7 linked regions of the Homo sapiens genome follow. The protein of the gene in region 2 interacts with the protein of the main gene of each other region in a biochemical or structural test. Each region holds a gene or a part of one and is shown on either strand. Other genes may lie near its edges. The genes, in order: AFP, SIRT1, EZH2, MAPK8, BMAL1, RICTOR and PARP1.

The links.
Region 1: the proteins of SIRT1 (region 2) and AFP form a complex in vitro, tested with the Homo sapiens proteins (one study listed by BioGRID).
Region 3: of the proteins of SIRT1 (region 2) and EZH2, one has a biochemical effect on the other in vitro, tested with the Homo sapiens proteins (one study listed by BioGRID).
Region 4: of the proteins of SIRT1 (region 2) and MAPK8, one has a biochemical effect on the other in vitro, tested with the Homo sapiens proteins (one study listed by BioGRID).
Region 5: of the proteins of SIRT1 (region 2) and BMAL1, one has a biochemical effect on the other in vitro, tested with the Homo sapiens proteins (one study listed by BioGRID).
Region 6: of the proteins of SIRT1 (region 2) and RICTOR, one has a biochemical effect on the other in vitro, tested with the Homo sapiens proteins (one study listed by BioGRID).
Region 7: the proteins of SIRT1 (region 2) and PARP1 form a complex in vitro, tested with the Homo sapiens proteins (one study listed by BioGRID).

The regions. Positions count from the first base shown.
Region 1 is NC_000004.12:73,449,189-73,453,525, reverse strand, and holds part of AFP (alpha-fetoprotein isoform 1 precursor), read right to left. Parts: intron 4,192-4,337; coding exon 4,059-4,191; intron 3,491-4,058; coding exon 3,393-3,490; intron 2,912-3,392; coding exon 2,773-2,911; intron 1,126-2,772; coding exon 902-1,125; intron 1-901. UniProt on the Homo sapiens protein: Binds copper, nickel, and fatty acids as well as, and bilirubin less well than, serum albumin. Only a small percentage (less than 2%) of the human AFP shows estrogen-binding properties.
Region 2 is NC_000010.11:67,887,656-67,891,155, forward strand, and holds part of SIRT1 (NAD-dependent protein deacetylase sirtuin-1), read left to right. Parts: intron 1-1,226; coding exon 1,227-1,468; intron 1,469-3,500. UniProt on the Homo sapiens protein: NAD-dependent protein deacetylase that links transcriptional regulation directly to intracellular energetics and participates in the coordination of several separated cellular functions such as cell cycle, response to DNA damage, metabolism, apoptosis and autophagy.
Region 3 is NC_000007.14:148,810,942-148,815,278, reverse strand, and holds part of EZH2 (histone-lysine N-methyltransferase EZH2), read left to right. Parts: intron 1-239; coding exon 240-365; intron 366-1,141; coding exon 1,142-1,320; intron 1,321-3,558; coding exon 3,559-3,654; intron 3,655-4,337. UniProt on the Homo sapiens protein: Polycomb group (PcG) protein. Catalytic subunit of the PRC2/EED-EZH2 complex, which methylates 'Lys-9' (H3K9me) and 'Lys-27' (H3K27me) of histone H3, leading to transcriptional repression of the affected target gene.
Region 4 is NC_000010.11:48,424,627-48,428,963, reverse strand, and holds part of MAPK8 (mitogen-activated protein kinase 8), read right to left. Parts: intron 3,077-4,337; coding exon 2,894-3,076; intron 2,585-2,893; coding exon 2,460-2,584; intron 1,885-2,459; coding exon 1,821-1,884; intron 1-1,820. UniProt on the Homo sapiens protein: Serine/threonine-protein kinase involved in various processes such as cell proliferation, differentiation, migration, transformation and programmed cell death.
Region 5 is NC_000011.10:13,378,275-13,382,611, forward strand, and holds part of BMAL1 (basic helix-loop-helix ARNT-like protein 1), read left to right. Parts: intron 1-47; coding exon of another isoform or gene 48-62; coding exon 63-171; intron 172-2,886; coding exon 2,887-2,980; intron 2,981-4,337. UniProt on the Homo sapiens protein: Transcriptional activator which forms a core component of the circadian clock.
Region 6 is NC_000005.10:38,951,897-38,956,233, reverse strand, and holds part of RICTOR (rapamycin-insensitive companion of mTOR), read left to right. Parts: intron 1-529; coding exon 530-639; intron 640-1,372; coding exon 1,373-1,460; intron 1,461-2,680; coding exon 2,681-2,773; intron 2,774-3,142; coding exon 3,143-3,249; intron 3,250-3,808; coding exon 3,809-4,038; intron 4,039-4,337. UniProt on the Homo sapiens protein: Component of the mechanistic target of rapamycin complex 2 (mTORC2), which transduces signals from growth factors to pathways involved in proliferation, cytoskeletal organization, lipogenesis and anabolic output.
Region 7 is NC_000001.11:226,401,188-226,405,524, reverse strand, and holds part of PARP1 (poly [ADP-ribose] polymerase 1), read left to right. Parts: intron 1-3,145; coding exon 3,146-3,311; intron 3,312-4,337. UniProt on the Homo sapiens protein: Poly-ADP-ribosyltransferase that mediates poly-ADP-ribosylation of proteins and plays a key role in DNA repair.

The sequences.
Region 1 (4,337 bases), on a different chromosome or scaffold from region 2:
CATACTTATGTGTAGTGGAAGGCAATCTCCCCTCATCCCCCAGGAATATCCTTTCCTGTCCGCTCTTCTTAACTGTGTCTTATCTACACTCAAAGACCCAGATCTCCGAATCCTGCCCATCCAGTTATCACACCCCTTATCTGGGCACTGGCAGCACTAATTGCCTGCACTGCTCACTTAGCAAGCCTTTCATGTTGGACTTAGACCAGAGCAATAGAAAGTAGACCAGAGCAATAGAAAAAGCTTGCCAGAACAGGCAACATTCTTATCATACTGTGAAACATACCTCAGACTGTGATAGAGGAAAAAAGAGAAGAATGGGTTTTCCAATGAAGGAAGACTATTTACAAAACAAGTGAGGATTAAAATGCATGGGAGTTTGAAGAACATAAGCTCCATTGACTTGCATGACCATCACCATTACAAAAGAGCTCCCACAATGAACTGAAATGTACATGTCATTTCTTAACACCCAAACTGCATGGTTGAATTAAATAAGATGGTTATTCTCTTCAAAGTGTAAATAGTGTAAAAAAAGATTCAATGATGTGTTTCCTGTGCTTGGAATGGAAGTACCCAAATTTGCTGCAAAGATACACTCTAATTCCTCAGAATAGATTGCCCACTTTTCCTCAACCCCCAAATACATATCACAATAACAGTTACAACAGAGATTATTTTTACAAACAGGAAATTGTCCACCCTCGTCAATTTTTCTAGACCTGCTTCCCCAATGAGACTGTGAAGACACTGAGACAAAACTATTTTCAAAGGCATTTTAAGTGTTTTGGGAGTAACGCTCTGTTAGTGAGCCCAATAGTGTTAGGTGAGCGAGGTAGAAGTCTCAGTTACTCTTTGGGGTTGTCATTCTTTTCCATGCTAGCAAGTAACAGTTTCTTACTCTTGCTTCATTGTTTGCAGCGCTACACCCTGAGCTTGGCACAGATCCTTATGGAAAATGAACTTGTCATCAGAGAATGCAGGAGGGACATATGTTTCATCCACCACCAAGCTGCTGAAGCATGGCCTCCTGTTGGCATATGAAGAAGTGCAGCACTGGCCAACACCAGGGTTTACTGGAGTCATTTCATGTCTGATACATAAGTGTCCGATAATAATGTCAGCCTGGTTAGGAGAATGAGAAAAAAAAGTAAGGAGATTGGGCATTAGTCACAAAGTTGGTTCAGTTTTTCAGAAAACTGCTGCAATAATTTCTAATGCCCAGCAATTTATAATTAATATTACAGGAAAATTTGCTATGTAGGATCATGTGACATTATATTGTAAATTCCAGGATTTACCCATTTGTTTGGGCTAAGCCTTAGCAAGTAGTAGCAGATGGTCCATATGTGATGTTGAGGATAGTCATTTAGCTATTTGTGTCAGCTATTTGAAACATGCTTCCAGTTACATACACACTTCTAAAGGACAAAAATGTCTCTGCCTTTATGTTTCCCATGTGTATTTAGTTGAACTTTCCATTTTTCTTTTGATAATCACTATCTGAAGGTAAGAATAGCACAAACTTACCCCTTTTATTCACATACATATACACATGTATACACTTGCAGCTAATATATCATCCTAATTGAAAAGAAGTAAGAGCAATTTTGTGGGTTTTTAAGACTTTCCTAATGTAGAATCTTGCTACCTTGCCTACTTAGGAGATATTTCTTAATCACCTAGTAATAACTTGTAATAAGAAATAATATGTTTTGTGTGCACTTTATCTGTCAGACTAGTGCTGTGTGAGTTATGCAGATTATCTTGTTTAAAACAGCTGTCGTATGAGGGTGGTATAATTTGTATTCTCAAATGTCAGATGAAAAAACTCAAGCTTAATGACATAAGTTGCTTTCCCACTGTGATACAACTAAAGAATAGTGAAAGTAGAATGCGGTTGTTGGCTGGTGGCCTCCGGAACATACACTCCTGAACCATTACACCATCCTGCATCCCTGCAGCCTCCCAGCATGGGAAATTCAACAAACAATTGAGGTGACATTTAATCACAAGAACTCTCCTTTTACTCTTAACCTTTGGGGAAAAAATGTATGACATGAAGACTAACAGCAAATAACTCCCCATTATGAAAAAGAGGAAAAAGGATAAAATAGACAATTTTGTTTGCAATTATGACTTTATAGGAAAAATATTTTTAATTCATCCTGTAATCTTATGTATGATACTAGTGACATTAGGAAGTAAAGAATATTGGCATTACTGACTCGAAAGTCATTTTACTATTCAGAACATAATACTTATCCTGTGCTGTACCCTATACCCTGCGAAAGGGAACCAATTATTCCTGATGTCATAATAATAATATCATGTTACAAAAGGTGAAAATATAAATATGGCTAAAATAGCATGACTAATTTTAATCAATCAAAGATAAAGCTTTTTTAAAACATCAAAGTAAGTATATGAACAAAAAGCAGAAATTATGATTTGAAGTTATGAATTATGAATTGTTATGAATTATGAGTTACATGTTGGTCGTTCTGTCTTTCCGATATATAAAGTTGGCTCAGATATTGTTGACTAAACTGGCTGAACTTCCACCAGCCACCCTGGAGGAATAGGAAGCATGGCCACATGCCAGCCATCCAGAGCTGGGTTCTCACACCCCTCCAACCGTGACTAATCAAACAAGCCTCCTAAGGCCATCTCTACATTGGTTTTTACCGTCTTCCCTAGAGGGGAATTATGAGGCTATTTCAAGTCAAACAGGGCAGAAATGAGATGGGACCAAACCAAGCAGACACTCACCGCTCCCTCGCCACAGGCCAATAGTTTGTCCTCACTGAGTTGGCAACAAGTGGCTGCTGTGGCTGCCATTTTTCTGGTGATGGCCATCAGCTCCGACGAGGTCAGCTGGGGGGCTTTCTTTGTGTAAGCAACGAGAAACCTGAAAGAAGCATTTTTTAACTAAGTCCTGCTGAGTCATTCATGAGTTTTTAGCCGCCTTGCTTCTTCTCACAGACTCTCTACTCTCATGCCAGAAGACATGAGGTCAGCTCGTTTGTTTCATCTACATGGTATTTGAACCAACTTTTGAGATGCATTTACTCTAACAACCACTCCCTGTACTCCTATTATAGAAGCATATCACAATGAAAAAGCAAACTCCAGGAGGAAGCCTGACTTGTATTCTCAACCTCGGAGCTTCATTGATTTTAACTGTGATCTTTTGGTGCTTTAACTCGGACAGACTATGACAGAATGGATATCTTTACTGCAAAAATTTGCACAGTATGGGGAACTTAAAGTCAATACCACAGATCAGACCTCACAGGTCATTCTTGTTGCTTCCAAAGGAGGAGAATGGGGAAGGCTACATTCTCTTTAATAATTTTAATTCACTAAAAATACTGTTTACAAAAACATACGCATTTTGTAAGTAATATTCTCCTAGTTTCTGGAAGAGGCCGCAGCTTCGCTTTGCCAATGCTTGGCTCTCCTGGATGTATTTCTGTAATTCTTCTTCCTGAAAATGAAGAATTATTACATATACATTTTTCTTTTCTTGGATGCATAACTTTGTATATAAAATTGATCAATATTATATACTATTATAAAACCAATCAGAGATGTTTAAATATTAAATATGGTAAAGTGTAAATTTTGATAATTACAGAAAATGGATTTTGGGGAGATTAAGTTTAACATTTTATAAATCACAAAATCATTTAATGGCAAAACTCAATCTTTGGATAAATGGTTACAGTTCTTTCTGTACCAAATTCTTGCCTTTCTGAAGTTATCCAAAAATGAATAATGAATACTACCTTTATTTGTGGATCAAAGGACTTTTGGTTAACATTTTTATTTCTACACTTGATCTTAGCCAAAAGGCTGAGAAGCAATTAACATTTTTGTTTCTAAAGCAAGCCACTAGCTGCTGACTGCTAGTTAATAACAGCTTAATATCTAGACAAATAGATATAACTGGCTAACAACTAGTTGAAAACTAGAGGCTTTCAAACAAACAGCATTTTTAACAGATGATATCAATCCAGTTTTTCATACTCCCCTAAAATTCTAGAGCAACTTACTCCTTTATCTTGGCATTCAAGAGGGTTTTCAGTCTGGAAACACTTCTCCAATAACTCCTGGTATCCTTTAGCAACTCTTAGAATTACTGAGACAGCAAGCTGAGGATGTCTTCTTGAATATTCATGAACAAAACTGAAATATGTGGAGAAAAATATTTCAAGTTATTGGAACTAAGAGACAAAAGGAGCCATCACTTCTCCAGTTATTCCTATATAATATGGCATGTGGAAGTTAAATTCAAATAAATAAACCTGAAAATCAAATATGATTTGAATTAT
Region 2 (3,500 bases):
ACCCTCCGCCTTCCAGGTTCAAGCGATTCTCCTGCCTCAGCCTCCCCAGCAGCTGGGATTACATGCATATGCCACTACGCCCGGCTAATTTTGAATTTTTAGTAGAGACGGGGTTTCTCCATGTTGGTCAGGCTGGTCTTGAACTCCCGACCTCAGGTGATCCGTCCGCCTGGGCCTCCCAAAGTGCTGGGATTACAGGCATGTGCCACCTTGCCCCACCTCACTTGTCCCCTTTTTGTGTAGTGTTCTTCATCCGGTTAGAATATCTTCCTCCCTCACTTCATATTCCTTGTTTTTTCACTTTATTGTACACTTACCACTTCTTGAAAAGCTCTGTATCTTACTTTTTAAATTGTGTTGTTTCCTGGTCTAGAATATAAGTTCTACGGGAGCAGGAATTTTTGACTGACTTGTATACTCCTGTCTTTTCAGTGCCTAAAAAAGTGCCTGGCACATAGTTTGTGCTCAATAAATATTTAATAAATATGTGAATGAAATGGGAAAGTATTTCGATGTAGAAAGCATTATCAGTTTTTTATACCAAAGGTATAACCATCTTGAAAGTGGATCTTTTTGTGTTCTCACTCTTACAAATGGCTTGATTATTTAAACATAGTGAAGATCAGTTTCTCTTTGGTGTCTGTAATTTATTTATTTATTTATTTTTGTTTTCTCAAGCCTAGGGAGCTGGTTTGAGCAATCTCAGGGTAAAAGAAAATGATTAGTTCTCAGAACATCAACATTGTATGTATTATCTTGGAAGATGGGTTAAGATCAAATTGAAAAATTACCGGAAAAAAATTAAGATGGCAGTTATGTATAGATTTTCATTTCTTTTTCCTGTGTGGTTTTAATGATAAGTAGTACAGGCTTTTAGGACTGGTACGATTTTTCTATGTCGTAGAACCCTTTTGTAAATACTTTTGGTATTATGGTGTGTGTTTCTAGATATTAACCATAAGAACTTAATTCTGGTTGTTAATTAATTAGACTCTTGAAATATATACTTACAGCTGAAGGGGGTCTTCCCAACTCTTCATTAGATCTTCCTAATCTCATTGGGATATAGCATTAATTCTGAGTGTACCGAGAATGAAATACCATTAAATTGCATTTTCTTACTTTGCAAAAAACCCTCACAGAATGCTAACTCATTACTTCAGAAAATAAATGAGATTTTGAATTACTTGATAAGTTGACTTTAAGCCTTTTCCCCCTTATTGTAGGTCCATATACTTTTGTTCAGCAACATCTTATGATTGGCACAGATCCTCGAACAATTCTTAAAGATTTATTGCCGGAAACAATACCTCCACCTGAGTTGGATGATATGACACTGTGGCAGATTGTTATTAATATCCTTTCAGAACCACCAAAAAGGAAAAAAAGAAAAGATATTAATACAATTGAAGATGCTGTGAAATTACTGCAAGAGTGCAAAAAAATTATAGTTCTAACTGGAGCTGGGGTATGTAAGACTAGTACATGGGGAGGTCGTATATGTATTTTCTTATGCCTTTTCCAAGTAGGAAACATTTTTCTGGTTTAGAAGGATTTATCCTTACATGATAATGGATGTTTGGGAACTGCCAAAAACTGAGTGCAGCAGCAGTTGCTAAATTAGTTCAGATTTTTAAAACCTCTCCAGCCTTAAAAAAATATTTGCTTCTGCTTATTTATAGCACAGTGGGTAAATGGAGTTAAGGCAAGATTTCTACCTACATTATATCATAGCTCCTAAAGGAGATGCAGGGAATTGAAACTCTGCTTTTGTTAAGGGATGTCAGTCTGATGGAGAAATTGGGTATTTGTTAGATCTTTATGAGAAACTGGAAACCTAATTGGTATTCACAAGTGAAAAGCTTAGTGTTGGGAAGAGTAACAGATTCCTACCTTCCCTCCATATTAATTAAGATGATGTGATTGTGGCGACTTGACATTTTCTATTTGATCTACCTTAGGGTTGCAGCTAATTAGTTACCTAAGACTATTGCATAGTGTGTGTTTTATACAGAGTATATTACATGTTAGCAACCAGAGCAACTGCTGTAGTAAAATTTTGTCCTGTTTTCTGCCATTTCGAGTTGCGAAAGGGTGTTACATAATCTTAGATGATCATCAGGAGTATGTTTTGCTCACAGATAACGATGTAGACAAGTTTGTTTAACTTAAATTGACCTTGACTCCAGGTCAAATTGGAGTCAACTCTGGTAAGATGATGAAACAATAACTTCTGAAATCTCTATTTGAAATGTCAGGATTTTTTTGTACGATTAGTGGGCACGTCTCAAAGAAATGAAGAATTGAAATATTATACACCTTTTTTTTTTTTCTTTTTTTTGGATACAGGGTCTTGCTGTGTTGCCCTGGCTGGAGTGCAGTGGTGTCATCATGGCTCACTGCAGTCTCAGCCTCTCCTGGCCTGAGTCTTGCTCTGTTGCCTAGGCTGGAGTGCAGTGGCAGGATCTTGGCTCACTGCAACCTCTGCCTCCTGGGTTCAAGCAATTCTCTTGCCTCAGCCTCCTGAGTAGCTGGGATTACAGGCGCACACCACCACACCTGGCTAATTTTTGTATTTTTAGTAGAGATGGGGTTTCACCATATTGGCCAGGCTGGTCTGAAACTCCTGACCTTGTGATCCGCCTGCCTTGGCCTCCCAAAGTGCCAGGATTACAGGCGTGATCCACCGTGCCTGGCTATACATTGTTTTTTTTAATGAAAATAGAGAATTGTTGTAGTATTGAGGTAATAGAATCCTAACTAAAGGAGCAATTTCTTTGGAATTACTTCTCTGTAATAGAAATTCTTGGCTGGTGGAGTGGCTCATGCATGTAATTCCAGCACTTTGGGAGGCTAAAGTGGGAGGATCACTTGAGCCCTGGAGTTTGAGATCACCCTGAGCAACATAGACCCTGACTCTACAAAAAATTAGCCTGGTGTGCTGGTGCGTACTTGTAGTCCCAGCTGCTAAGGAGGTTGAGGTGGGAGGATTGCTTGAGCCGGAAAGGTTAAGGCCATAATGAGCCATGATGGCACCACTGCACTCCAGCCTGGGCGTCAGAGCGAAACTGTCTAAAAAGAAAAAAAACAAAAAGCCGGGCGCGGTGGCTCACACCTGTAATCCCAGCACTTTGGGAGGCTGAGGCCTGCGGATCACGAGGTTAGGAGATCGAGACCATCTTGGCTAACATGGTGACACCCCGTCTCTACTAAAAATACAAAAAATCAGCCGGTCGCGGTGGCAGGCACCTGCATTCCCAGCTAATCAGTAGGCTAAGGCAGGAGAATGGTGTGAACCCAGGAGGCGGAGCTTACAGTGAGCCGAGATCGCACCACTGCACTCCAGACTGGGCGACAGTGTGAGACTCTGTCTCAAAAAAAAAAAAAACAAAAAAAAAAAGAAAAAATTCTTCCCTACTTAAAATAATTTGTTGAAATGGTTTATTTTCTTCTCAAGTTGCATTTGCTTTAATTTGTTGGCTAAATGCTTAAAAGGCTTA
Region 3 (4,337 bases), on a different chromosome or scaffold from region 2:
TGCTTTGGGATGGGACTGAGATGTAGCCGTGCTTTAGATGGAACTCATAAGCACTTGGGGGTGGGAGAGTATTTTTTGCCATCGTTGTGGAAACCGGAATATGTGTAATGTTATGCATTCAGTAAAGGCAGGCCAGCTACACTCCACAGGTAGTAGGGAAGAATGTACTCGTGTTAATTGTGTATGATCGTTTCCATCTCCCTGGATTCATTGGCCTGCATGATGTTATCTTTACTCAGACGGCTCCTCTAACCATGTTTACAACTATCAACCCTGTGATCATCCACGGCAGCCTTGTGACAGTTCGTGCCCTTGTGTGATAGCACAAAATTTTTGTGAAAAGTTTTGTCAATGTAGTTCAGAGTGTAAGTATTTGTTGCTTTGATGCAATTGCATGAGAACTAAATAGGTCTTTGGTTAGCAATTTAAAAAATCAAAAATAAGAACATGGGAGCACTCCCTTGTTTACTTGACGAAACTCATCAATTTGACAAGTATTTATTGAGCCCCATACCTGGCCCTGTGCCAGTGGCCAGTCAGTCGCCTGGGTGTTGTGTGTCTGTGTGTGTGAGGCAGGCAAAGTTGTATTAAAGGAACCTGAATTTTATTTTTTTCTTCTTTGATCATTTAAATTAAGTTGTATTAAAGTTGGCACAGATTGTAAGAGGAATCTAGAAGGAGCTACCCAAATAATTTTTGGGCACCAGAAATCGTCAGAGTTAGGAGGGTTTTAGTCTTCAGATTAAAGGAATGTAGCATAAACATAGTAGATTTTTATAATTGTTTAATGAGACTGCACATGAAGCTTGGGTATTAAGGGAGTGTTTAGAACTAGGGGCTATTGGAATGGTCAAGGACCATGGATATTGTTCCATCCAGACCCTTTATTCACACCGACTTTAAATATATACACTATTTAACAAATGAAAAATGGAAAAACAACTCAGTGGTGGTCTTTTTCAGTGCAAACAGCTATAACTTCGCTGTTAATACTTCCATTTCCTTGTCTATATAGTAGGGTAATAAGGTGGTTGTGAGGGTTGAGAGTCAGTGAGATGCCCAGTACAGCCCTTGCCACGTATCTTTCTGCAAGTTTTTGCATACGGTGATGAGTGAAGAACCTCCAAACCTCTCTCTGAAGGTCAAAACCGCTTTCCGGGATGCCGCTGCAAAGCACAGTGCAACACCAAGCAGTGCCCGTGCTACCTGGCTGTCCGAGAGTGTGACCCTGACCTCTGTCTTACTTGTGGAGCCGCTGACCATTGGGACAGTAAAAATGTGTCCTGCAAGAACTGCAGTATTCAGCGGGGCTCCAAAAAGGTGAGCAACAAGTCACTTCTGGAAGATTGTTTGTAGTTAGCTATTTAGTGATGCAAATGTCAGGATTGCCTTAGATGATTTAGCTGGGGCAAAAAGTAAAAGTGATCCTTGAAAGGTGCAACTGATGAGAAAGTGTTCATAATTTTCTCTGGGTAATGCACCCTTGGGCAGTCTCTTCAGTTTTATATAGAGCACCATACTCTGATAGTAGGAGAAACCAGCAAATTCTGAGAAGTAGCCATTCATGGTATCAGATTTAGGAATAAGAGGTATTTTTTCTACCTGTTTAATAGATTATTTGAATTTGTCTTTTAGTTAATAGTTTATCTAGTATCCTTAATGCAAATAAATGGTGATTTCTATCAAAATATAGACTCATTCTCATCAAAGAGTATTTATAGATTCCTTGCTATGTAGAGTAAAAGATGAAATTTCCCATGGCAGGTTTTTATAGACTTACTTCCTGTTTGTTTAATAACCTTGAAAAAAACCCAGCTAGGAACTATATATTTTTAGTCTGGGGAATTGTATGTAGGTGAGTTAACTCTATCAGCCAGGAAGTAATGATTGAGCAAAAGACACTTCAGCAGCATGTATTTGGGAAATTTCGTATCTTTTTTTTTTTTTTAGGGCAGATGATAAGTTCTTTCTTCAGTCAGTTCTTTTTATAATAATAGCTGACATTTATTAAGCATGTAAAAATAGGCACTGTTGTGAGTGCTTTAGTGGATTTGTTCATTGATTCTCCTAACCCTGTGAGTGAGGAGTAAGTGTTAACCCCCATTTTACGGGTAAGGAAACCCAAAGTCACAAGACTTGTAAAGGAGCAGGAGATCAAATCCTCCAGGCTCCCATTAACCTGCTCTTATGCTCTGTGTGTGTGTGTGTGTGTGTGTGTGTGTGTGTATGTGGGGTGTAGAGTAGACATATCTTTGTTGTTGGACCATTTATTTATAATTGAGAACACACTTCTTACCAGCAAGTCCCCTTCTACCAGAAATTCTGCTCCAGGCAAAACATTGAAGTTCTCTTGGTTTTGTTTGTGTCTTTGAACCAAAGTCTGTGTTTATGGCAGAGAGTTGTGCAGGGTGGTGGGCTTTTTGTTTTTAGCTTTGACTTTTTTCTTTTCTGTTAGACATTTAGATGATTTTACTCTAGGCAGTTATATGTCCATTTAGGTCATTGGATCACAGTGACTCTGGTTCCGTTTCCGATGGCATACCTGCTCAGACCTAAAAATCTCAATTTCCCCCCCAAACAACTTACCATTGTACTCCTTCCTCACTTTGTTCAGAAAGTGGGCAATTCTATTCATACTGACATGTCCTCTTTGTAAGACATTTTTTAACTCTTAAAAATGTTAAACTATGTAGATACCTTTTACCAGTTGGGTTTCATTTGCATAGCAGTATTTAGCTAATTTAGTTTCTGATCAGAAGGCTATTTGGGAAGTTCACATGACAGGTGAGTGGTAAGATGGTCCAGAATAGGAATAGATAGGAAGCCTTTGTAAAGGTCACAAGAAAATTTTGGATGAAAGCATAATACTGAGCCGTGATGAAAAATTGGCATATGTTGGGGAACACATCCCTAAATACATAATTTATAGCAATGATCATCTTGGCATTTCTGCTGAAAATAGACTACTGGACTGACAAGATCATGATAACACCTCCCGGTAGTTTCTTGTGTTATCCTGAGGAGGTGGGGTGGAAGAACAAATCCAAAGCCAAGCTGCTATGGGCTTCAGAGGGAACCAACGCCAGTGAAGAATCAGGGGGTGTCCTGGGGCTGAAAATGGAATAACTATTAATAGAATCACTTGGGGAAAGTAGAGGGAAAGGTATGGAGAGGAAGAGTGATTTGGTGGTGTCCTTATATTAAATTCAGGTTGAAAGTGAATTACTCGAGGAAATCAAGGGCTGAAGATACAGGGAAGCCAAAAGTGCAGCAGGCCTAGAGCACCTTGCTGAACGATGGTCATTGCAGAGGACCAACACCACCAAAAGGTTTTCTGTAAGACAGAGATTCTTATCTGCTGTATAAGGAAAACATAATGTTCATAGCCATTCTCAGCAGCTTTCACGTTGACTGAAGCTGTGTGCCCAATTACTGCCTTAGAACAAACAGGTCTGAGGATTTACAGTGATAGCTTTTGTTTTCATTCTGTAGTCTACTTTGTCCCCAGTCCATTTTCACCCTCCTTTTTTGATGATGTGATTGTGTTTTATTCTCTAGCATCTATTGCTGGCACCATCTGACGTGGCAGGCTGGGGGATTTTTATCAAAGATCCTGTGCAGAAAAATGAATTCATCTCAGAATACTGTGGAGAGGTAAGGCACTGATAACCTGTATTCAGGTGGCATTGTATATACTAACTTTACTTTATTTTAGATTGATTTTATTAGGTAAGTCTGTGGGTTTGATTGGAAATGAATTGCCATAAACTGCCTTTTCAGCCTGGACTTCTGCATGTTTGTGGATTTGCATGCTTAGTAACTGGATTGTGCTGGGCGCGGTGGCCGACTCCTGCAATCCCAGCACTTTGGGAGGCCGAGGCAGGTGGATTGCTTGAGCTCAGGAGTTGGAGACCAGCATGGGCAACATGGCAAGACCCCATTGCTACAAAAAATGCAAAAATTAGCCGGGCGTGGTGGTGCATACTTGTAGTCCCAGCTACTTGGGAGCTGAGGCAGGAAGATCGCTTGAGCCTGGAAGAGCCTGGGAGGTTGAGGCTGCAGTGAGCCATGTTTGTGCCACTGCACTCCGGCCTGGGCGACAAAGTGAGACCCTGTCTCAGAGGGGAAAAAAAGCAAAACAAAACAGGATTGCTTGGTTCTAGCCACATTTAGTTTTTCTCGTCTAGGGACAACAGGGAGAACAAGAGCTTTACCATAGAGTGGCCTGCTTAATCCACAACCTAGTTGATAAGGACCTAGAAACAACAACGTCATTAGTTATTCACCTTTTAAATTGTCGACAGTGTTACCGAAAAATCATAGGCCTAGCTTCAGTT
Region 4 (4,337 bases), about 19 Mb from region 2:
TGTGATCCCAGCTACGGGGGAGGCTGAGGCAGCAGGATCACTTGAGCTCAGGAGTTTTGATGCTGCAGTGAGCCATGATCATACCACTGCACTCTAGCCTGGGGGACACAGTGAGACCCTGTCTCAAAAAAACAAACAAACAAAAAAAACAACCAAAAAAACCACAAGATTCTACAAAATACTTCATCGTCTACTGTAAATTAGTAGGATGTAAAAATATTAGGTTAATGTTTTCATACATACTCAGTACAGAGCTATATCTTTATACATATTCAAATGCACATTACATATTCAAATGCAGCAGACTCTATCCAATTTTATCATTTTGTCATTCTTCTAACTTTATCACGGGCTCTGCTAACCATGGGTTTCCCAAAGTTCAGAGAAAACCAATCTCTAAATCTCTTCAATTTCTAAGAAAGAATCAAATTCATGCTTAGCAAAATACATTTATAGATGGGTCACTTATTCATGTTTATACCTCCCCAGTCCCCTTTCCTTTCCCAGGATTTAGAGACAACTCTTAATAACAGGTCTTCTGCCTCTATTTTAAGATGAGGTAAAATGCAGGGGGCAGTGTAGGAGGGTGAGATGAAGGGGGAGTGATTTACTCAAAGTCACGCAGTTACAAAAGTGGTCAAAACACTGAAGGACAATAACACAAATGGAAGTAAACGGGACCTAAAAATTACCTGACCCACATGTCCCAGGGCACCTTTTGAAGAAATATTTGAAAACTTCCATGACTATCAAAGCATGATTAATTTCAGCCACATTCATAAAATAGAATAAAACTACATTAGATTTACAAATATTAAAAATTAACCCATTCTGTAGGCAAGGGTGAGGGCAAAGAGAGACTCCTATATAACATGGACGGAAGTGTACACTACTACCATTTCTTTGGAGAGTAATTTGGAAATAACTGAAAAATATCTTTGGCTCAGAACATCTCCTTCCAGGATTTTTCTTCCAGGCATGTTCTCATATGTGAACATGAATATTGCAGAGTTGTTTCTAACAGCAACAGACTGGACACAATTTAAATGGTCACCAAGAGGGAGATGGATATATAAAGTGTGACATATTCATACAGCAGAACACTAACCAGTTATTAAAGCAAGAGAGGCAGATACGTGAACTAAAAGAGAATAACCTTCCAGATATCTGATTATATCAACAAAGCACTCACGCCTATAATCCCAGCACTTTGGGAGGCCGAGGCGGGTGGATCACGAGGTCAGGAGATCGAGACCATCCTGGCTAACATGGTGAAACCCTGTCTCTACTAAAAATACAAAAAAATTAGCCGGGTGTGATGGCAGGCGCCTGTAGTCCCAGCTACTCAGGAGGCTGAGGCAGGAGAATGGCGTGAACCCGGGAGGCAGAGCTTGCAGTGAGCCGAGATCACACCACTGCACTCCAGCCTGGGTGACAGAGCGAGACTCCAACTCAAAAAAATATATAATAAATAAACAAAGCAAGTACATATAGCATACACCGTACACAACCATACGTGATTTTAAAAGGGTGGAAGAGGAGAGGTGGGAGACACTAAACACATTTGTGTATTCACAAACCATGGAAAAAAATATGAGACAGAGCACTAATGTGTCTGTGTCTGGGGTGGGAAACTTGGGAACTTAAGATTAAGTTAAGGAAGGAAGCAGACTTACTTTCTACTTATGTAAAAATATTAATATTACCACATTTCGGTTATGCATATTAAAGTCACAAATTTCTCTAACATGATAATAAATCACCATATAAAAACCAGAAGCTCCTTCACAGTTTTCCCTCTAAGAATCTGACGAATGTACCTTTCCACTCTTCTATTGTGTGTTCCCTTTCATCTAACTGCTTGTCAGGGATCTTTGGTGGTGGCTGAAAAACACAAGGCAATAATAACCAAGTCAGTATGCTGGGAGTATTTTAACTCTGTAGTTATTTGAAATATTAGCCACACAGATGACTTATAAAAATATATCATTAGATCAAGACTGATCAATCATCAACTTACTTATACAGACATAATAGTTTAGGAAGACTCCTTCATTGCAGGAAATAAAATGTTTAACTGTCTTTTTTCTTTTCTTCTAGCTCTTGAAATTGCCACATTTTATTTATATCACAGATCACAGAATTCTGTTTTCCTTTGGATACAGTAATTTGTTTTATACCTGAGTTAGGATGTTCCCCCAGAGCATTCAACATCCTAGTTCTCTGGTTAGGTATCCAGGCAAGATTGCAAAAAACAGTGGGAGGTAACTTTATTTTGTGTAGGAGGGGCTCGAATATGTTCATTAGTTTATTTGACGTAGTCTTCATGAAGAAACAGAAAAACATCATCATCATGTATCTACATTTTTATTTAAAATTAAAAGGTCTCCTCCAAACCTAACTGTCATTCTAACTCTAAGAATGCAATATGTTCTGTAAACATTAAGAAAATAACTTACAGCTTCTGCTTCAGAAGGATCATACCAGACATTGATGTACGGGTGTTGGAGAGCTTCATCTACAGAGATCCTTTTAGATGCATCTATTACCAGCATTTTGGATAACAAATCCCTTGCCTGACTGGCTGCAAACATAATGGTGTTAATGTACATATATTTGTAAAGATTCTCAAATTATTAATAACTTTCAGCAATTTGAGATTTTTTAAAAAGCATATGTTTTAAAAATATTACTGTAAAATTATCTTATACATATGATTAAAATATATAAGATTAAAGAAAAAAAAAACAAAAACCTCATTTTTTTCCCCACCATCCAGAGAAAACCTTGGGTTCATGTCCCATAAGAATATGAATACATATAAACACACAAACCCATACACACACACTACACACCCCAAATGGGATTAAATGTACATATTTGTAAAAAGTACCTTTAAGTTTGTTGTGTTCTGAGTCAGCTGGGAAAAGGACATCAGGGAAGAGTTTCTCAAAGCTATATCCAGCATATTTAGGTCTGTTTTCAACGTAAGTCCTTACTGTTGGTTGCAGTTTCTTCATGAATTCAGGACATGGTGTTCCAAGCTGTTCAATAACTTTATTCCACTGATCAATATCTAATATCAAGTAGCTAAGAAAAATACTCCATAACTAATGTTCAATACATTAGTCATATTCATATTACAAGAAAATAGAAATTTAAAAATTCCTAAGAAAGGATGTGGCAGTTATAAATTTTATATCTCACAGGCACCCTGCAAAAGGCAATGATTGTAGGTGGACAGAAATGATCAATAAATAAGCTTTATTAACCTTATTTATTGTGTGTTCAAACTAACTGATTTTACCTTAAAATGGAAGCTTAAACTCACAAATTCTAAATAAAATGATAAGCAACTAAGAATAATGACAATTACTATCCATAGTGGCTCTAACTGCAAACTGCACACAATGCTATAATAATATACAAAATTTTTCCTTTTCTGTCAATTTATCAGAAAACATGATTATATCTCCTAGACAATATTTCTAGAACACATCCTGTTTTACTGAGTTTTCTACACTAACAGAAAATAATCAGTTGTAATAAAAATAAAGGCTTCGATAAAAGTGGCATTTTCTTTTGCCATTCTTTGTTTAGCTTAGGTTTAAAAAAATTTTCTAAAGCTCTGACCCTTATAAAAAAGATTCAGTTTTTTGCTAAGTTGTAAGGTTAGGATTTCTTGGTCTCCTTTCCTCTAGTCTTTACACTCCAGGACCCTGAAGGCCAAGGCCTAAAACTCACTTATTGTAACCTTGTGAATATGCCTTTTCCCATTCTTCCTCCTGAAACAATTCTAAGTGTTACTAGCTGGTAAACACATAACAAATCACTGTTAATATAAATATTAAAAGTAGTGGGATGAACAAAAAGTATGAATCCAAAGCTATCGTTACCATACAAAACTACTACTGCTGAAATTCTCAGATGAAAGGGTCAGTATGTTATGTGAGTAATGAGACAACAATCAAAAGACACAAACCACACAGAACATTAACAAAAAGGAGGTAGGGGACAAAACAAAAGGATGGCCAGAAGCAACAGACAGCTCCAAAATTCATATTAAGTTGTACGTATTTCTAGACTTAAGTGTATAATTATTATAAATTTTTAATGCAAGCCATGATTTTTGATTTAGGTTAAATCAACTCAAAGCCAGCAAGTAATTGTGCATAATTACAATTGAGCAGGGTTCAGAATTAACATATGAAACAATAAATAACGGAAGGAAAAGTCTATGTCAAATAGTAGGTGGTATTTTAAGAGTAATTTAACAATATATTAGGGAGAGACAAAATACATTATACCTGACCAAACTGAAGTGCTATCATACATTT
Region 5 (4,337 bases), on a different chromosome or scaffold from region 2:
ATACATAATAGTATTTCTTCCTCAGTTTTCCCCTTTCCTACTCTCAGATTCCTTTGTTGTAGGTGGCCCAAAGAGGACCCACCCCACTGTTCCAGGGATTCCAGGGGGAACCCGGGCTGGGGCAGGAAAAATAGGCCGAATGATTGCTGAGGAAATCATGGAAATCCACAGGCAAGTAACACCTTCTAGTTCCTCTGTTAAACCAGTGGTTCTCAACCCAGGGAAATTTTTTCCCCCAGGCAATATTTTGCAATGTCAGGAGACATTTTTGGTCTTCACAACTGGGTGGGAGGTTGCTACTTAAACATCCTGTGGATAGAGACCAGGGATGCTGCTTGTTAAACATCCTACAGTAAACAGGACAGTTCCCTCCTCCCCACCCAACAAAGAATTATCCAATCCAAAATGTTAGTAGTGCCTAGATTAAGAAATCCTGCCTTAAATAAAGAAGCTAAACCAAAATAGCCCAGCGCTAAAGAGAATTCTTGAGAAGACTTAACTTTCTTATGGCTCAAGGAGCTTCTCAGTGCGGATAGATGTACCTTTACTTTACAGGAATGCAGGAGTAGAGCTGTGAACTATCAGAGTGATCTGGACCTTAACAAAACATTCACTTTTTTTCAATCAAAGAGCTGCCCAGGATTAGTACTAGAAACCAAGCAGATCAGCTAGTTATTACTAGCTGTCTTGGGAGAGACTTCCTTTCCATATGAAAGAGAAGGAGCTTAGAAGCAGTCCACCTGGGTCTGAGTCCTGGGCCTGTCTCTCTACCTGGCTATGCTGAGACTTACTTAACCTCTTGCTCTCTGTTGATTTAAACCATAAAAAGAAAGCACTATTTCCCAAGAATTGTGTTAGGATTGTGAGGGCACTCAGGAAAGTTCCAGGAACACAGCCTGACATATAGTGAGTGCTTAAAAATTAATTAAATCTGTCTTTAAGAGCAGTCGAGAGGGAAGCAGTTATCATAAGTCTGTCCAAATTTGGGGAATAGAGAAGGTGGTAACCAGATTCTTCAGAACGAAACTTAATGTAACATAAGAAAAGGAAGAAAACACTGCTGCCGCTGGATTCTCTCAGGAGAATTAGAGGCTGGCCTGTTTTCCAATTGGCCATAAAGGGGCTGTTATCCCCCTATAGGTAACACAGCTCTTTTCCAACCCCACAGGATTAGTGGGTGTGACTTCTGCATCAGGAAGGAGACATGAGGGTAGTGTGCAGTGTAATCAGGTTCAAACCCTATACTTTGCATTTGCATACCCTGTATTTTGCTTGAGACCATCCAAGAACAGTATCAAACAGTCCTTGACCTCAAGAATTTTAAAATCTTTTATAAGTCTATTTTCTTTATGATAACAGGAAAAAGGGAGGGTGCATGGGCCAAAGCAAGCAAAAGAGGAAAGATTTGAACTTGGCCTTAGCCAGGGTTTGCAATAAGAGTGGATGTTCCCTCTAGAAAAGCCAGGGCTATTCTTGAGTGGGCATGTGAGTGGCAAATTCAGGGTCAAGAAACAAGCTACCTAACTGGGCAGGCTTTGTGTAGGAAGGAGACACAGAGCTATGATAGGCGATTAAGAAACACAAGAAATGATACTGTGCAGTTTGGAAGAAACCTGTAAGACCCCATTTGTTGTAGGATGCTGAACAAGCATCCAAAGTCTTGTGTTACGCTTTGTGGAAGTTGCATTGGAATAGGGAGAGATGAAGGTGGGCATGTTTGACAACTCAGGAATGAGGCCTTATCCTACAGAGATGACACTGCCAAAAGAGAAATCAATCATCTAAGGTCTAGCGTTTGAAGATGAAATCAGGAATGATGAAACAGCAATTCCAAGATGAGAAACCTGGGAAAATAGTGGTTTCATAGACATAAGTAGAGAAAGGTGGGGGACACTCAGCAATTTTTCCGTAAGCAATTAGCAGCCGTTTGTGCATGCTGAGAATACATGATATGTAGTTGTAAACTGCCGTTAAGAAGCTTCTAATCCAGAAAGAAAACTTGTTCACTCATAAATCTAGAGAACTAGGCAGTACAAGAACCAAAAGACTTCTGGGTGGTGGAGGAGTGGTCTCTGGGTCACCCAAAAGCTACATTCATCCATGTAGGAGCTGAGAGTCCTGTGGTTACACAACTGCCATCACACTCTCCCTAAACTGTAGCTGCAATGCCAAGTGATGGATTCTTTCCTGAGGTCCTTCAGCCTGACAAGTATTTAGGTGGATTTACAGTTCTAAGTCTTCCCTTCTATAAATCTTCTGAGAGATATGCTAGATAAGAAAGGCCTGGACCCATTTTTCATCAACCACTGCCTTCGAAGGCTGCTTTTCCTGTCACTACTACTAGGCTACCTTTTAGACCCTGGTGCCGTCCATGTCCTAAGAGTATTCACTAGCTAAACAGTGTTTGTGGAGAAGGGGACAAATTGTTTTCTGTGGATCAAAGATGGAGGTTGATCTTAGAAGTTCTCCTCCAATTCACCTGGATTCTGTGAGGAAATAAAACTGGCCACTTACTTGAAATTCACCAACTGAATGCAAACTCCAATCCAAGGGCTTTGTCAGTGAGATGCTTGACTCTAGGGACTGCATTCTAGATCAGGTGCCTGTAGAACAAATCCAGCTTGTCATCTGTTTTTGTAAATAAAGTTTTATTGGAACACAGCCACACCGATTCGTATCTGTGGCTGCTTTCAAGCTGCAGAGGCAGAGTTGAGCATTTGTGACAAGACACCATATGGCCTAGAGAGCCTACTATCTGGCCCCTTACAGAAAAAGCTTGCCAAACCCTAATCTAGATCTTCATCCCCTTTCTCACCTTTACCCCTTAACAAAGCACATACACTCCACTGAAAAAAGAAAAGGCAGTGTAATTCTCTTTTCTGACAGGATAAGAGGGTCATCGCCTTCTAGCTGTGGCTCCAGCCCATTGAACATCACGAGTACGCCTCCCCCTGATGCCTCTTCTCCAGGAGGCAAGAAGGTAAGACTGATGATTCTTAGCCTAAGCTAGAGAACCTCTTGCCCAAGATCTGAAATGTTGGGGGTGGGAGTATGGAATTGCAACTGCGATTGCTGAAACAATTTGGACTACTTCCTCCTTGAAGTAAATGCATCTGTGTGAGGCTGGATACAAAGCATACTGGTAGGGCTAGGGAGGCTTGCTGACATCCTCAGAGGCTTTCTTCCATGTGAGTGGAAGAAGGGAGAAAGAATAAGGAATGGGGAACTGTCAGTTCATTTAATTGAGGGAGCAATTCAAGAGTTCCCATGAGGGAAAGATTATTGAGTACCTCACATAGAAAAGTTTCTCATTTTCTGCCAGGAATTTTCAAGGGAGAAAATATTAGTGTCTAGGGCAGGCAATGGAAACAGCAATGCCACCAGCAGTGCTTTGGAAATCAAGCCATGCTTTATAGCTGCAGAATACTTGGGGATCTGCTGCCTGGGGGTTCCATTGGTGTGACAGCATTGGATCCAAGCAGTGGATCAATCACCAGCCCTCATGAAGAGCTTGCTATAAGACTACACTATAAATAGGTTTAGGAACCAGTCATTTGTTTTCATCTTTGCTGGAGAACTTATAAGCCTAGGCCCATCTTAATCGTAAATTATAAATCTGTTTATATTGCCTGATGCCAGTAGAGCTTAGGACAGTTTAAAGGCCATCATTTTGGACACAATGGCTTCCTTTCCCCATCTCCTAAAACAGAGAGAGAGAATATCAGGAATTTCCATAGGCAGGACTCCTAGGGCACAAACCATCAAAAGCAGGGCAAGGATTTTCAAAACTGAGCTCCTCGGAGGTTTGTTCAGGTTACCAAGAGCTGTGGTGTTACCAGGTGGGATGGGCGTGGGGATAGTTGCTAAGGAGAGAGGGTAAGAGTAGAAATCCTGCTTCTACAAGGGCAGCAATACTTCTTTTTTATACAGGAATCTTCTGCAAACATTTCTATTTGAAAAAGCGTTTTGCTCCCCCCAAAAAAGGTTGAAAGTTAACAAATTAATGGGTAAGACTACAAAGTAAGACCTGGGTTCGAAGCTTGGCCTTGCCATGTGCTAGTTATGTGAACTTGTACAACTTTCAAGCCCTAGTTTTCTTTATAATGGAGCTAATAATGGTTAGGGTAGCCAGCATCTTTGCACGAGGTCCTACTGTGAGATAATATATGTGAAAGTGCTTGGCCCAAAATACCACTGACAGATGAAGTCTGAGCTTGGTGTCCCGTGACCCCCGCCCCCCTGCCCACAACACACACACTGCTTGCCAGCTGTCTTCTTAGCTGTTCTTCTGTTATACCTCCAGGTCCTTCCTGCATATTGGATCCACCATCTTCTTA
Region 6 (4,337 bases), on a different chromosome or scaffold from region 2:
AGTCTAGAAATATTGACACAAGTTTAGAAACAAGAATTGATGAGTGCCTGAACTTCACTGGTAGTTAGGTTGATTAGATGAGGACGCATTTTCTGGGTATTTTCAAAATAAGATGGACAGAATTTGTGGGCTGATTGGATACAGTAAATAAGAGGTCCAACTTGGCTCATAAGGTTTCTAATTTAATGACAATATATAATGGATCACTATTAAGAGATCACATTTATAAAAAGTGATTCAAGATTAGGCTAATGAATTTTCAATATGTTGAACTGGCATTGTCTGTGCAGTAACCACGTGATGGCTTGAAAATGTGGATCTGGAGCTCAGATTTGTGAGGAAAATGGCAGATATGGGGGTCATTAGTATATAGTACTAGTTGAAACCTGAGCCAAAAGCTTATGGATATGATAGAACATTTGCATTCATAATACCTTGATCTGTCTACCCTTTGCTAAGTATCTGACATATTTTAAATTTAGTGACTCATTGTGATACTATGTGCAATTAAAACAATATTATCCTCTAGGAATACAACTCCAAATATGTTGACTTGATTGAGGAACAACTCAATGAAGCACTTACTACTTACCGGAAGCCTGTTGATGGTGATAACTATGTTCGTCGGAGTAACCAAAGGTGCGTACCCAGTTATCAGATTTAAAACTAGTTCATCATAAATTATTTTTAACATTTCTGAGTTTTTGTATATTCTGCTTCTAACATGATATAGGAAGAATCTTAATGCGCAGCATTAATTGCTCAAAAATTCAGTGGCATTCATGGCATGTTGAATATCCTTACTGATAACGCATTCACATATACTCCATGCTGGCACCCCAGTCTGTATTTCTAGGCCTAGATTCTCTTACCAGTACTTTGAGCTCTGATAAACTGTTACAGGTTGAACATCACTTATCCAAAATGATGAAATGTTTCGCATTTCAGATTTTTTCAGATTTGGAATATTTGCATATATATAACGAGATACCTTGGGAATGGTACCCAAGTCTAAACATGAAATTAATCTGTTTCATATACGCCTTATACACGTAGCCTAAACATAATTTTATGCAGTGTTATAAGTAATTTTCTGTATGAAATAGTTTGCATTAAATACTAATGTGTGGAATTTTCCACTTACAGTGTCATGTCAGTGCTCAAAAAGTTTTGGATTTTGGATCATTTTGGATTAGGGAAGCCCAGCCTATATTTTACCTGAGAAATCCTCATTCCTTGTTACTTTCATATTTTTATTTATGCTGGAGAGTTGTATCTAATTTTATTTATCAAACATTTATTAAAATTCTTTTGTTCTAATTAGCATATTTAAATTAGCCAAGAGATATAGTAATCATCTTTATTATACTAGATTACAGCGTCCTCACGTCTACCTGCCTATACACCTTTATGGACAACTAGTACACCATAAAACAGGCTGCCATTTGTTGGAAGTACAGGTAAAAACATAATTCACTTATTTTAAGTAGCTACAATAGTAAAAAAAAAACAAAATCTTAACATTGCTAAAATATTACCTTTGCAAAAACTTCTCAAAAGCTTTAATATCAGTGGTGTAATTGCTTTTAAATTCATCTATTTTGTAATTGACTTAGGCATTCTATATTTATTAACCTGAGAAATATTAATGGCCTTGCAATGCATTAACTGACTTGTGTATGACTTTTTGAATAACTAACTTGTTATGTAGAGTAAGCAATCCAATGAAGATCTGAGTTCTTTTTTTAGAGTTTAGTGGAGAAATTCAGATCTCCAAAAACGTACTGAAAAACCGAGTTTTTCTTCCACTCATTGGGAAATTAAACTGAACCTAATACAGATTAAGTTATCCTTGTTGAGCAATAAATTGAAAGTTGCTGGTTGTGAGCACATTTTATTCTCGCGTACTTCATGGAATGTTAACAAGCATAGGCAAGCAGTTGTTCTTTGAGTTATAATATGTACACCGCATTTATGGTTGTGAATATGTCATGCAACTGTTTCCAATAAATGTAACGTTTCTCTTATTTTAGAAATAAAGTTATAGGAATATTTGTTTTTGTGACAGAACAATAGTTATTTAACAATTTAGTTCCCGATTGTATCAGTATTCATCTCAAGAGCACAAAGTTTTGCATAAATGTACTCTATAGTTTCATGTGTTTTTATATTACGTCTGTGAAAACTGTTGGGACAAGTATTTTCATATTAACATTTGAAAATTTCACTAAAAATTTAAATGATTTTCTCAGTGTTACTACTTACATAGTATGATAAAACCTAAGCACTAATTTACTTTCTGTTTTAAAGAATAAGTATGATTATTTAGTAATACTAAGTGCCAAGTACTTTGGTAAGCACTGTATGTGCAATAATTTATTAAATCTTGAAACCTTATGATGCAAATGTTATTATCACTCTTCTAGATATTAGGAAATCAAAGGATGAGGAGATGAAGTAACTTGCCCAAGGCCATGCAGTTAATAAGTGATAATTCTAGAATGTGAATTCAGAACCCCTGCCCTATGCTGCTTCTCAAGAAATTTTACATAAAATTATTTAGAATTTAAATATGCAAAAATGACAAAAAACAAACGTTATACTGGTTTTATGATGCAATAATAATATATTAAATACATAAATATATTATTACTCATGGTATTTTTTTTTCTTTCTCCAGAATATTATTACAGAACTCTGTCGTAATGTTCGTACACCAGATTTGGATAAGTGGGAAGAAATTAAAAAACTGAAAGCATCTCTTTGGGCCTTGGTTTGTAATAAACACTTCTGTAAGATCTTCGCAATTTTTAGATTTTTAAGTTTTTTTTTCATTTATACTAAATAGATAAATATTTTCTTTGGAACTACTTATTAGATTAATATTTAAGACTGGATTGTTCCTGCCAATATAAGTGTATTATCTCTATGTTGAAGAATAGATGGTTGAACTATTGGTTTCATGACTTTTGTTTTGTTGCTAAGACAACTAGAATTAATTCATGCCTAATGTTTTGTACTTGAGGAGGCTTTTACATTTTTTCTCTCTCAGAGATGAGGTTAAATTTGTTTCTTGGTAGCTTTCCAAATCTTTTGAAAGAGTGACTCTTATATTTGATGTAAGTGATTTCTTTTCTTTCAGGGAAATATCGGCTCATCAAATTGGGGTCTCAATTTGCTACAGGAAGAAAACGTGATTCCAGATATACTAAAACTTGCAAAACAGTGTGAAGTTCTTTCCATCAGAGGGTAGGTCATTTAACTCAGAAATCTTTCTAATGTAGACGTTGTTATTCACAAATGGATGTTAGGGGAAAGTATTTTATGATTAAGTGCAATGCATAACTGTTAATCCACTGAAAGTTCTAATGATACAAGATTATTAACTGTATTAAGTTAAACATCTAAACGAACTCCTTGTTTACTACTATAATTTGATTTTTATTATATTGAAGTTTACCTTGTAGGTAACAGGTAAGGCATAGTGTTGTACAGATACTCCAGTATTCCTGTAACCCAGCTGTTCCAGATTTATACTAGAAAAGCTAATATACCTTTTTTGCTCATGTTGCATTGTGTTCTTTTTATTTTGTTGTAATTACTATTTTTATTGGGAAGGTTTGCTTGTTTTTTATTGCTGCTAATTTATTCCTGACTAGTCTTAATAAGTTTTTTTTTTTCCACAAACGCAACCATTTTGGTGGGTTTTAGAGAAAGTTCAAAGTATGTATAGCAAATTAATCTGTGGTGGCTTTAAGAAATCTCAGCTTGGAATTATAACTGTTTTTACTGCATCTTTTATATACAGGACCTGTGTATATGTACTTGGGCTCATAGCTAAAACCAAACAAGGCTGTGATATTCTAAAATGTCACAACTGGGATGCTGTGAGGCATAGTCGCAAACATCTGTGGCCAGTGGTTCCAGATGATGTGGAACAACTCTGTAATGAACTTTCATCTATCCCAAGCACTCTAAGTTTGAACTCGGAGTCAACCAGCTCTAGACATAATAGTGAAAGTGAATCTGTGCCATCGAGTGAGTATCCTGACAGGTTCATATAAAGTTAGCCAATGTTAACATTTATATTTGAATTTTAGAATTTAAATGTATTTGTTACATTTGTAATTTGCTTTTGTCTAAGATAATTATTTGGCAATAATAGCCTCTTGGAGAATGTGTATATTTTCATAACAAAGAGTATAATCACCAGCTTACATTTTTCTCTCTCCTTATATTCTAAGTAGCTTTTGAGGATTCCTACAAAGTTATGTAATAAGCCATGTGCCAGAAGAACCAGTCCTCCTTTTTTTGACAGAAAAGAAACAAATATAACA
Region 7 (4,337 bases), on a different chromosome or scaffold from region 2:
AGACCAGCCTGGCCAACATGGTGAAACCTGTCTCTACAAAAAAATGCAATGATTAGCGGGTCGTGGTGGTGCGTGCCTGTTAAGTCCCAGCTACTCCGGAGGCTGAAGCTGGAAGATTGCTTGAGCCTGGGAGGTGGAGGTTGCAGTGAGCTGAGATAGTGCCACTGCACTCCAGCCTGGGCGACAGACCCAGACCCAGACCCAGACCCTGTCTGAAAAAAAAAATAGTAATAACAACATTCTGGGCTTTCCTTTGGTATACTTGATAGTGAAAGAAACTCTTTATTATTAAAAGTAACTGTGATTTTTATGTAATGGTGATTAAGGGTGGATTCAGAGTTTTAATTCAGAATTTAAAGTTGGTCTGGTAGACTGAGCTGGTGAAGGCCAAAAAGAAAGAAGCCTTTTCACTTGCTTGAATTTAAATACCTTCTTTTACATTTACATGGGAGTATTGTTCTCTGAGTATCTGATACCTGACACTTTAGCCCTCATGCCTGGGGCATCTTGGGAGGGATGAGCTGGGCCCTCCAGCATTTTGGTGGGAGGAGGATGGCGGTAGACCTTTGAGTTGCTCTGTCCTGGGAGGGTTTGAGCACCCGGAGGCATGCAGTGAGGTCAGTTCATTCTCTCTGTGGCCTAGGTGGACAGGTAGCATGGCCTGTTCTGCACAGAAGGGAACCCAGTTCACCAGCTGCTGGTTGGGTGAGGACCCTGGTATGTTAGGTGCTCAGTTTTTGCTTGGGTGCACAGCCAAAGATTCTGTGCCTTGCCTCAGCTGTGCAGCTAACAAATGGAGTCGATAGTCTTGTGACCTTGGTTTGGTGCCTTTCTGCCACATCATTCTCAGTCCTGAGTTTAGGGCAAAGCATTGCTTTGGTCAGGGGTGCTTCTGCTGAGGCTCTTGTCCTCTAAGCTTGTGCTGTGATTGCACCATTGGGCAGCACCTCCAGGGTGTCCAGCACTGTGCCGGTGGTTGGGGGAGACAGCACCCAGACCAAAGGGCAGCAGGTCTGGGGCCCCTGGCAGAGCCAGGAAGAAGTGCCATAGCCATTACCTGTGCTCTTTATACAAGGGTAACTGGAACATTGCACAGGAAGGGTAGACAAGGGGTAGACAAGCAGGCAGAGCCAGGTCGAGGCCATTGCAAATATTCCATGATAGCCAGATGCTTAGGGATCTGTATCAGCAGCCTAATTGAGATCTGGTGGAACGTTTGAGAGTTGGAACATGAGTATGCTCTCAGAAATGCCATTTGTTGTCTCTTCTACAGCAGGAATTTCCCCATCCTTCCTTTTTTGTTCCATCTGACTTGGAGCCCTAAGCAAACACTGCGTGCCCTCTGTGACATGTTGCTAGAGAATAGCAAGATAGGCCCTTATGAAATAATCACCAAATGCATAGTTCTTAGTGAGGGGAGCTGTGGAAGGAGCATTGGGAGATCTGAGGGAGTGCTCTGAACAGGGCTGGAGAGCATTCCAGACCCAGGGGAAAGCTGATGTTGAGGAGTCCTTGTGCTGCCATAGTCTTAGCTGTGCATTTTAATACATCACATCCAGAAAGAGGCCACTCACAGTGGAGAGAGATAGTGGGGTACCTTATCATTGCTTTTCCAGAGTATTTTCCCTGTCCCCGCAACTCCATCCTAAAAATTCAGCACATTTACTTTTAATGCTGTTTTAATAGTCTTATTGCATCTGTGTGACATTTAGCTTTATGTTCTATAAAAGCAGATGTTTGGGACTTCCCTTACTTTAGTCAGATCACAGTTGGTGTATTTTTAAGTAGCTCTTCCTGCCGGGCAGTGGAGTGTGGTGGGAGGAATCATAGTGTCAAATCATTCATTTGCTGCCTCTGTGACTCCCAACCCCCCAGGCAAGGATTTCCAGCCCCACTGTCTCCATCTGTGAATGAAAGGGCTGGTTCCCACCCAGAGGCAGATTGTGGGATTACACAGGATGGCTTATGAAAGGAGCAGGGACACACACTACATACTGTGTCTTCCCCTTCTTCCCAATCGCTGTCACCGTCCACTCTGTAAAGCCAGGACTGGGTGCAGTGGTTCATGCCTGTAATCCCAGCACTTCGGGAAGCCGAGGCGGGCGGGTCACGAGGTCAGAAGTTCGAGACCAGCCTGGCCAACATGGTGAAGCCCCATTGCTACTAACAATACAAAAATTAGCCAGGCATGGGTGGCACGTGCCTGTAGTCCCAGCTACTCAGGAGGCCGAGGCAGGAGAATCGCTTGAACCCAGGAGACAGAGGTTGCAGTGAGCTGAGATCGCACCACTGCACTCAGTGCAAGACTCGGTCTCAAAAACAAAGCCAGACAGTGCTCGAGGCCTGGGAGCAGAACCTGACCCTGTCACAATGAAAGGCCTAGTGGGAAGCAAACCACCTGGAGAGGGGAACTGTGTTCCCTGTGGCCAGACTTCTCAGGTCCTACGCCTGGGAAACTGCGCCCCAGAAGGCCAGTGAGCAGCTGACTCCAGCTCTAGGCATGCTGCCCCGAACCATCCGCTGTCACAGTTGCCTCAAAGACCTCCATTCATTCCACTCCCATCTGTGTGGCTGCTGCAAGCTTGACACTTTTTTCTGACACACTTTCTCTGCTTTGCTCATTATCTGGGACTTGTTCCTTGTTATTCTTAACTGCAGAGGCACTTAAAGAGCCCTTTTCTGGGGCACACAGGCCCTTTGAGTCCAGGCAAGCCTGGAGCAGTTGTCTGGCCATTCCCAGCAGATGCTGCAGGATTGTGACTCTGCACAAGTGTCTTCTGTGCATTTCACTAGGCCATGAGGCAGCTCACCACTAAATGTAGCAGTGTGTGGTCAAAAGGGACGTGGGGCAGAGCTCAGTGGTAAAAGGCCACCTTTCTCGTGGCTGTGTTTGGTGTCCTAAGAGAATGAGCTCAAGAACAGTGGGCTACAGTCTTCTGACCCTTGGGGAAGATCGTGAGAAGGATGCTGCAGCTCTTCATGTGAGAGCGGAGGCTGTCCTCCTTTCACAGATAGGAGAACAAAAGTTTCATGTGCTATCCCACTGCTGGGGCTGGGACTGGGGTCGAGGTCAAGGTCAAGGTCTAGTGGGTCTAAGTCAAAAGTTAACTGCTTACTTACTTCCCTCTGTTTCTCTTCCTTCTAGTCGCCCATGTTTGATGGAAAAGTCCCACACTGGTACCACTTCTCCTGCTTCTGGAAGGTGGGCCACTCCATCCGGCACCCTGACGTTGAGGTGGATGGGTTCTCTGAGCTTCGGTGGGATGACCAGCAGAAAGTCAAGAAGACAGCGGAAGCTGGAGGAGTGACAGGTGTGTACATACTGGGGCAGCATGGGCATTCAGCCCCCACCCTGAAGCTCCCAGGAGGGCCTCGTCTCAGAGAGCAAAGCAAACCTCCCCCAGCTTGCCCTCTCCCACATGTGCAGATCAAGCGTATGGTGCCCATGTTATTTCAGCAACACCTCCTGGACTCAGCATCATCTGTTGCATGATATTTGGTATTTTGTTTTTCCAGGTGCTTGGAATGTAGCCTTTAAAGTTGTTTTGTTTTTAATATACTTTATTTTTGTTCATGGCAAAAGTAAGCAAAGAACAAAGAGTTTCCAGTACCCCCTCCCCCTCCCACCACACAGGCTCTTCCTTGTCAACACCTCCCACCAGAGTAGTACATTTGTTATAATTGAGGAACCTACACTGACACATCATTATTGCCCAGAGTCCAGAAACTCCTGATGCTCTACATTCTATGGGTTTGGACAAATGTATGATGACATGCATCTGCCATTATAGTATCATACAGAGTAGTTTCAGACCTGCACCCTTCTGCAGCCCCCTTAAGATTAAGGAAGAATAGCTCATCTCTGAGAGGGGAATGAGGTAGGAGGTGGGGCTCAGACACCAAACCAAACCGAGGACTAACTAAAGCAGGGACAGGGACGAAGCAGCTTTCCATAAAACACCCACCAGTGTGCCATATCAGTTTACCATTGCCATGGCAATACCCGGAAGTTACCACCCCTTTCTGTGACAACAATCTGATGACCTAAAAGTTACCACCCCGTTTCTTAACATGTCTGCATAGTCTGCCCCTTAATTTGCATATAATTAAAAGTGGGTGTAAATATGACTTCAGAACTGCCTTTGAGCTGCTGCTCTCAGCACAGTGCCTGTGGGGTAGCCCTGCTCTGCAGGAGCAGTCACAGAGCCATAACACTGCTGCCTCAATAAAGCTGCTTTCTTCTACCACGAGCTCGCTCTTAAATGCTTTCCAGAGCGAAGCCAAGGACCCGCCCAGGCCAATCCCCAATTTAGGGCTGGCCTGCCCTGCATCAGTTT